Homo sapiens: one gene and its partner. The protein of the gene in region 1 purifies or fractionates together with the protein of each later gene. This does not show direct contact. Each region holds a gene or a part of one and is shown in the gene's direction. Other genes may lie near its edges.

Region 1 (3,500 bases):
GTGGATTAAAGAGCAAGACCTGGCCTGGCGCGGTGGCTCATACCTGTAATCTCAGCACTTCAGGAGGCCAAGGCAGGTGGATCACCTGGGGTCAGGAGTTCAAGACCAGCCTGGCCAACATGGTGAAACCCCGTCACTACTAAAAATATAAAAATTAGGTGTGGTGGCAAGTGCCTGTAATCCCAGCTACTCGGGAGGCTGAGGCAGGAGAATTGCTTGAACCTGGGAGGCGGAGGCTGCAGTGAGCCAAGATCGTGCCACTGCACTCCAGCCTGGGTGACAAAGTGAGACTCTATCTCAAAGAAAAATAAACGAAACTTTTCCACCAAACTCCAGTCCCAGATGGCTTCACCAGTGAATTCTAACATTCAAGAAAGGAGGGGCCAGGCACGATGGTTCACATCTGTAATCCCAGCACTTCAGGAGGCTGAGGCAGGTGGATCACGAGGTCAGGAGTTTGAGACCAGTCTGGCCAACATAGTGAAACTCTGTCTCTACTATAAGTACAAAAAATTAACCGGGTGTGGTAGTGTGCGTCTGTAATCCCAGCTACCTGGGAGGCTGAGGCAGGAGAATAACTTGAACTCGGGAGGCGGAGGTTGCAGTGAGCCAAGATTGCGTTCCAGCCCGCGACAGTGCAAGACTCCGTCTCAAAAAACAAAAAGAAAGAAAGAAGGGATACTCTTTTTTAAAAAATAGATGAAGGAACACTTCCCATCTCATCTCTTGAGTCCATCATAACTCTCATACCTAAGCCAGATAAGGATTCTGTGTTTGGGGGAGGGGGTGTGCACATGCACCCTTGTCTGTTCACAGATCAGTACTGTGTGCACCCGTGTGTGTTCACGGATCAGTACTGTGTGCACACGTGTGTGTTCACTGGTCATTACTGTGTGTGCACCCGTGTGTGTGCACAGACCAGTACAGTGTGTGCACTCGTGTGTGTTCACGGATCAGTACTGTGTGTGTGCACGTGTGTGTTCACGGATCATTACTGTGTGTGCGCCCATGTGTGTTCACGGATCAGTACTGTGTGTGTGCACGTGTGTGTTCACGGATCGTTACTGTGTGTGCACCCGTGTGTGTTCACAGATCATTACTGTGTGTGCGCCCGTGTGTGTTCACGGATCATTACTGTGTGTGCGCCCGTGTGTGTTCACAGACCAGTACTGTGTGTGCATATGTGTGTATTCACAGATCAGTACTGTGTGTGCACCCGTGTGTGTTCACAGACCAGTACTGTGTGTGCATATGTGTGTGTTCACAGATCAGTACTGTGTGTGCGCCCGTGTGTGTTCACAGATCAGTACTGGTGTGCATGTGTGTGCTCACAGACCAGTACTGTGTGTGCATATGTGTGTGTTCACAGATCAGTACTGTGTGTGCACCCGTGTGTGTTCACAGACCAGTACTGTGTGTGCATACGTGTGTGTTCACAGATCAGTACTGTGTGTGCGCCCGTGTGTGTTCACAGATCAGTACTGGTGTGCATGCGTGTTAACAGACCAGTGCTGTGTGTGCACATGTGTGTTCACAGATCAGTACTGGTGCACATGCATGTGTGTTCACAGACCAGTGCTGTGTGTGCCCATAAGTATATGTTCACAGACCAGGACTCTCAAGAACATAGATGCAAAAATACTTCACAAAATATTAGCCAACTAAGTATTACTGAGACTCCTGTTCTCCACAAGTTGACGCAGAGATGCAGTGCAGTCCCACTCAGAGCTCCCACGGCTTTTCTAGAAATTGGCACACAAACTCCAAAGCGTGTGTGGAAATGCAGATGACCTGGGAGACCCAAAACAACCTCCTTGACAAAGAGCAGGATTTCAAGACTTACCAGAAAGCTACAGTAACCAAGGCAGTGTGGTGTCAGCATGAGGATACAATAGAGCAGTGGGATGGAATAGAAAGTACAGAAAAAAAATTCCATACCCAAAGGGCAGGGGGCCGGGACCACAGCCACAGCGATTCAGTGAGGAAAAAGAGAAAGGAAAGTCTTTTTTTTTTTTGAGACAGGGTCTCACTCTGTTGCCCAAGCTGGAGTGCAGCAGTGGTGTGATCTCGACTCAGCCCGGCTGACTGCAGCCTCCTGGGCTCAAGGAATCCTCCCACCTCAGCTGGGACCACAGGCACACACCACCATGCCCAGCTAATTTTTTTTTATTGTGTGTAGAGACAGGGTCTCGCTATGTTGCCCAGGCTGATGTTGAACTCCCAGGCTCAAGCAGTCCTCCTACCTTGGCCTCCGAAAATGCTGTGACTGCAGGCATGAGCCACAGCACCCAGCCAGGAAACTCTTTCCAACAAAACTTGCATGAACAGCTGGATATCGGAATGGGGAAAAAGTGCACTGCATGCTGTATGCAAAATTTAATTCAGGGCGGATCAGAGATCTAAACAAAAACTAGAACCATTAAGCTTTTTGAAGAAAACACAGAATATGTTCATGAATTTGAGGGTGGCAAAGATTCCTTAAGATGTAGAAACTCCTCTGATAAGAGGAAAAAACCAATTAGACTTCATTGAAGTTTAAAAACTTCTCTCAAAAGGCACAGTTAAGAAGATGAATAGGCAGGCCGCAGGCTTTGCTGCATGTGTCTCTGACAAAAGCCTGTGTCAGTACCAAAAAGACAAAGGACCCAATTAGAAGGGGGCAGATGAAGCCAGCCGACTTGACAGAAGGATCTCTTAAATAGCCGGTACACACATGGAAAGATGTGGAACGGCATGAGTCACCAGTCAGGGACGTGCTGATGCAACCAACGAGACAGGACTAGACGGGGGTCACCCGTCCCTAAAAACCAGGACGGGCTCGGGGGAGAGTGGGCACGGGCCCAGCGGCTGCGCTCTCAGACACTGGATTGGGAAACGTGTGCAGTTTCTTGTGACGTTAAGTACACACCTACTCCCTGACCAGCTGTCCTGTTCCTAGCTGTGAACTCCTCTATAAAGTCAACATTTAACCAAAAACACTTTGATTCATAATTACCGAAAACTGGAAACAACCAAATCTCTATTAACAGGAGAATGAATCAACAGATAATGGTAGCGTCCTGTCCTGTAATACTATTCATCGGTAAAAGGAACAAATTGAGGATCACCCTGCGTCGTGGAGGAGTCTCAGACATGCTTTGCTGAGCAAAAGCAGCCAGACACAGGCCAGCCACAGTGGCTCACACCTGTGATCCCAGCACTTTGGGAGGCCAAGGCAGGAGGATTGCTTGAGCCCAGGATTTGCAGGCTTTTTTTTTTTTTGGTAGAGACCCCCATCTCTACTTAAAAAAAAAAAAAATTAGCCATTTGTGGTGGCGTCTGCCTGTCGTCCCAGCTACTTGGGAGGCTGAGGCAAGAGGATCACTGGAGCCTGGGAGGTCAAGGCTACAGTGAGCAGGGATTATGCCCCTGCACTCCAGTTTGGGCAACAGAGGGAAACTGAGAAACAAACAACAGAAAACCAAGAAGCCAAACCAACAAACAAACACAGACATAGCGTG
Region 2 (4,183 bases), on another chromosome or scaffold:
TGCTTCTTCCTGTTCACGAGCATGGAATGTTTTTCCATTTGTGTCATCTCTGATTTCTTTGGGCAGTGTTTTGTAGTTCTCATAGTGGAGATTGTTCTCCTCCCTAGTTAGCTGTATTCCTAGGTATTTTATTCTTTTTGTGGCAATTGTGAATGGGATTGTGTTTCTGATTTGGCTCTGTGCTTGAAGGTAGTTGGTGTACAGAAACACTCCTGGTTTTTGTACATTAATTTTGTATCTTGAAGCTTTCCTGAAGTTGTTTATAAGATCAAGGAGCTTTTGGGCAGAGATTCTGGGATTTTCTAGGTATAGAATCACATGGTTTCCAAACAGATTGTTTGACTTGTGTGAAAAACATAGTGGAGTAGAAGCAAACACGTGTCAGCAATGGAATAGAAAAATAAAAGTGCCCATGAATAAATTTAATTTGAATGTGAAGAACTAATATGAAGCAAATAACACAGTCATTGTGTGGGATATGTTAAAAGACTTGAGGAATTGAGGAGTGGCTTTTTTTTGATAGAGAGATTCTAAAATAGGAAGATGGCTATTGTCCCAGAGTTAACATGTAATATAAAAATAATAACTAGTATCTCAACAGGAATATTTTAGCACCTGATCAAATGATTCTGAAGTTCATCTGAAAGACCAACGTGTCAGAATTGATAGAAAAGGAGAAATCAATGAGGGAGGGCAAGCATTATTTCACATTTCAAATATAATTTAAGCTACAGCAATTAAAATAGTGTAGTAGTGGTACAGGTATAAACAACTCAATGGAAGAAAATTAAAAGAAGAGAGTTACATACAAAATTGAGTGGGGATGTAGGTGATGATAAAAGAGCCATTTCAAAACAGTGGGTGCAACAGGGATTCAACAAATAATGTTGAGTTCCTACCACTTTAATTTTGTCCAGATGGATCAAAGATTTTGAACGTACAATAATGCAACCAAAAACTATGAATGTCTTATATTGGAATGGGTTAGACAATTGCAAGCATGACAGCAAACTCGTGAAGGAGGCAAGAAAATGATTTATGGAAGCGTATATAAAACAGATATTAAAATATTTAAGATTTATTTCTATGATGGTGAAGTTTTCTGAAACACATTATTAGAGTAACCTGGGGCTCATATTCTCCAAAGCCACTGGAAGTGAAAGAAAGGGTGGGCGGGGGAAAAAGAAAAGTGCTTTGCAAGTTCATTTTCGTTGTCAGGAGCGCTGGTGGTTTAGGTTCTCCACAGACGCAGGAAAACATCAGTCACGAGGCGAATGTCCCAGTCAGTGTGCATGCTGCACAGACCTGTTGCTGCACTTGTCTGTTGTTACGCATGTCTGTTGCTACACGTGTCTGTTGTTGCGCATGCGCCTTGCTGCCCGCCTTCTGTCCACACACAGCTCTGCAAGGAGAGTGTCTTCATTCTTTCCGCCATCTTGATTCTTTGTCACTGACCGAGACTCAGCCGGTAGGTCCGCAGAGCGGTCTTCCTGGGAATTTAGTTGTGGGTGAATGTGTGGAGGAGCCAGCTGGCTTTGGACAGGTCCTGCGGCACAGTCCGTGGCTTCCGAGGGAAAAGGGCCTCGCGGTCGTCGTCCGGCCCCTCCCAGGTCGGGATGCCACCGTGGGACTTGTCGTCGTGGCTGGGCTGGGACGAGGGACGAGGGAGGAAGGTGGGCCACAGAGGGGAGGGATCGCGTGAAGATGGGGCGAGTGCTGGGGGTGCTGTTAGAGGTGTCTGAGTCTCGAAAACTCCTGGAACCCTCTGAGAGAGGACAGTTTCCAGACTCCTCGGTAGGGACGCGGGAAGAGACCATGTGGTCAGTAAGGAAGGGGCCTGGGAACTGGGAACGCTGTGGGCCGGTGACTGTGGCCCCGAGGTCTGTAGAGTGCCTGGCAGAGGTGTCCCGTGAGGAGCATAACGTTCACTCTGTTTCACAATTTCTCACCTCCGCCATGGACGCCATGGAAGGAATGGGCGAGGCTGTGCTTTCCAACAAGACTTGATTTTGAGAGAGGTGTGGGGGTGAAATGGGCCTAGCAAATCAGAGTGGGACAAAAGCAGTAGTCATTTCAGTTTCAATTCTCTGCCCTTTTTTCCCCCAAATGTCTTCATGATGGAGAGTCTAATTGTGAAACCAAAACGCAGAAATGTCCTCTGTCTTTTGCTATGGCGTTAAGGGGATTTCTATGCCTCTTCGACTATGATACAAACAAATCTGTCCTTAGTTTGATTGGAAAGCGTGGGTACTTATCAATGCTCTGTGAATTACGTTGAAAATATTTTCAAAATTAAAAAAATACAAATCACCATTTTGCCATGGAATGTTCATATATATAGCTAAGTTCTTATACACTTTTTCCAAATAACAGTATTCTATTTTCAGTGGGAAATATGAGTGAGCATGTGAGAACAAGATCCCAATCCTCAGAAAGAGGAAATGACCAAGAGTCTTCCCAGCCAGTTGGATCTGTGATTGTGAGTCCTTTAACATTTGATGTTTCCTATTAACACAATTTATTTTAAGAAATATTTTTGAGCTAGTGTACACGCACTGATACAGGTGTTCCATGCTGATAAAAAATGATGATGGCATCTCATGAAGGAAACGTTGGTTCAGGAATATTATATTCTGGTGTTACCTGTATGGATATGGATATTTCTCTCTCTCTCTCTCTCTATATATATATATGTGTGTGTGTGTGTATATGTATATATGTATATATGTATGTATGTATGTATATATGTATGTGTATATATGTATGTATATACGTATGTATGTATATATACATATATGTATATACATATATATGTGTTTATATATGTTGGAAAAATGTCTTTAGATGTGTGATTCGATGCACATATGCATTTGTGTATTTATATTATTGACTTTTTATTCACACACACACTTACACCCTTAGGTCCAGGAGCCCACTGAGGAAAAACGTCAAGAAGAGGAACCACCAACTGATAATCAGGGTATTGCACCTAGTGGGGAGATCGAAAATGAAGGAGCACCTGCCGTTCAAGGTGAAGGGAGAGTGGAGAATAATGCTTATGGGTGGTGGAGGTCTATTTATGCATTGTATTTTATGACATACCAGTAACAGGAGGACAGAAAGCATTAGGAAGGAATCTTAAACATTTCCTACTGCTGCTGTGTGGAGGGGTGGGACAAGGACGCATAAAAAGCCACTAAGCTTTCCTACCACTTTGACGGAGGCTTTTTATTGATTGGGTATTTTCATGGTTGCCATAAACCTTTTTCCAGAGCTCCTGTATGCTTTGTTCAGCCATTTTCTGTTTTTTGTTGCTGTGGAAGAATGGCAGCTTGCAGCTTCCTAGTCTGCCATCTGTGGACACGTCATGTATTTTTTAAGAAACTTTTTAACACACCTTTATTGATGCTTCCTCATACCACGTAATATACTAAGTGCTGGAGATGTCAGTGCCAAATTTTTGCCTAAAGCTCATAGTCTAGTCAGATTGACTCAAACAAATCGCTGATTTAATGTGATAAGAATAAGAACAAATGAGTACAAAAGGGACAAGTAAGTTGTCTAGGGCCAGCCTTGGGAAAGGAAAGGGCAATGTTTGAACATCTCTGCTTTCCTGTTTTCCTGGCAGCAGATTCCTGAAATAATTAGCCTACAGGTTTTTACTTCATAATGATGAGGGAATAAATATTATCATTTCCTTGTTCATAGTTCATGTTTTAATTTGTAAACTGATGACCTTTTTATCTTTTAAGGGCCTGACATGGAAGCTTTTCAACAGGAACTGGCTCTGCTTAAGATAGAGGATGAGCCTGGAGATGGTCCTGATGTCAGGGAGGGGATTATGCCCACTTTTGATCTCACTAAAGTGCTGGAAGCAGGTTTGTTATTCATTTAAGATGCAAACTATTGTATTTCTATTTTCACAGTATTTTGTGTGACACAGAGGTAAAATTACTGCTACTTTAATATCATACTTCACGTCTGAAGGTTCTTTGAATGTAGTTCAGACCCCAAATGGCTGCCTTACACACTATCAGGGATAGAGGGCCAGGTGTGGTGGCTCATGCTGTTAATTCCAGCACTTTGGGAGGCCGAGACAGAAAGATCACTTGAGGCCAGGACTTCCAGAGATGGAGAAAAATTGGGTCAAAGCTAATTGGATTACGATATGAAAGATATGAAA

What was found. Proteins that work in one complex are often made in the same cells at the same time.
Region 2: the proteins of SFSWAP (region 1) and PAGE2B purify together in Homo sapiens (affinity purification with mass spectrometry; one large-scale study listed by BioGRID and IntAct). This does not show direct contact.

The regions. Positions count from the first base shown.
Region 1 is NC_000012.12:131,791,090-131,794,589, forward strand, and holds part of SFSWAP (splicing factor, suppressor of white-apricot homolog), read left to right. Parts: intron 1-3,500.
Region 2 is NC_000023.11:55,073,647-55,077,829, forward strand, and holds the start of PAGE2B (putative G antigen family E member 3), read left to right. Parts: upstream 1-1,383; 5' UTR 1,384-1,468; exon of another isoform or gene 1,469-1,610; intron 1,611-2,373; exon of another isoform or gene 2,374-2,387; coding exon of another isoform or gene 2,388-2,395; coding exon 2,396-2,479; intron 2,480-2,922; coding exon 2,923-3,031; intron 3,032-3,752; coding exon 3,753-3,878; intron 3,879-4,183.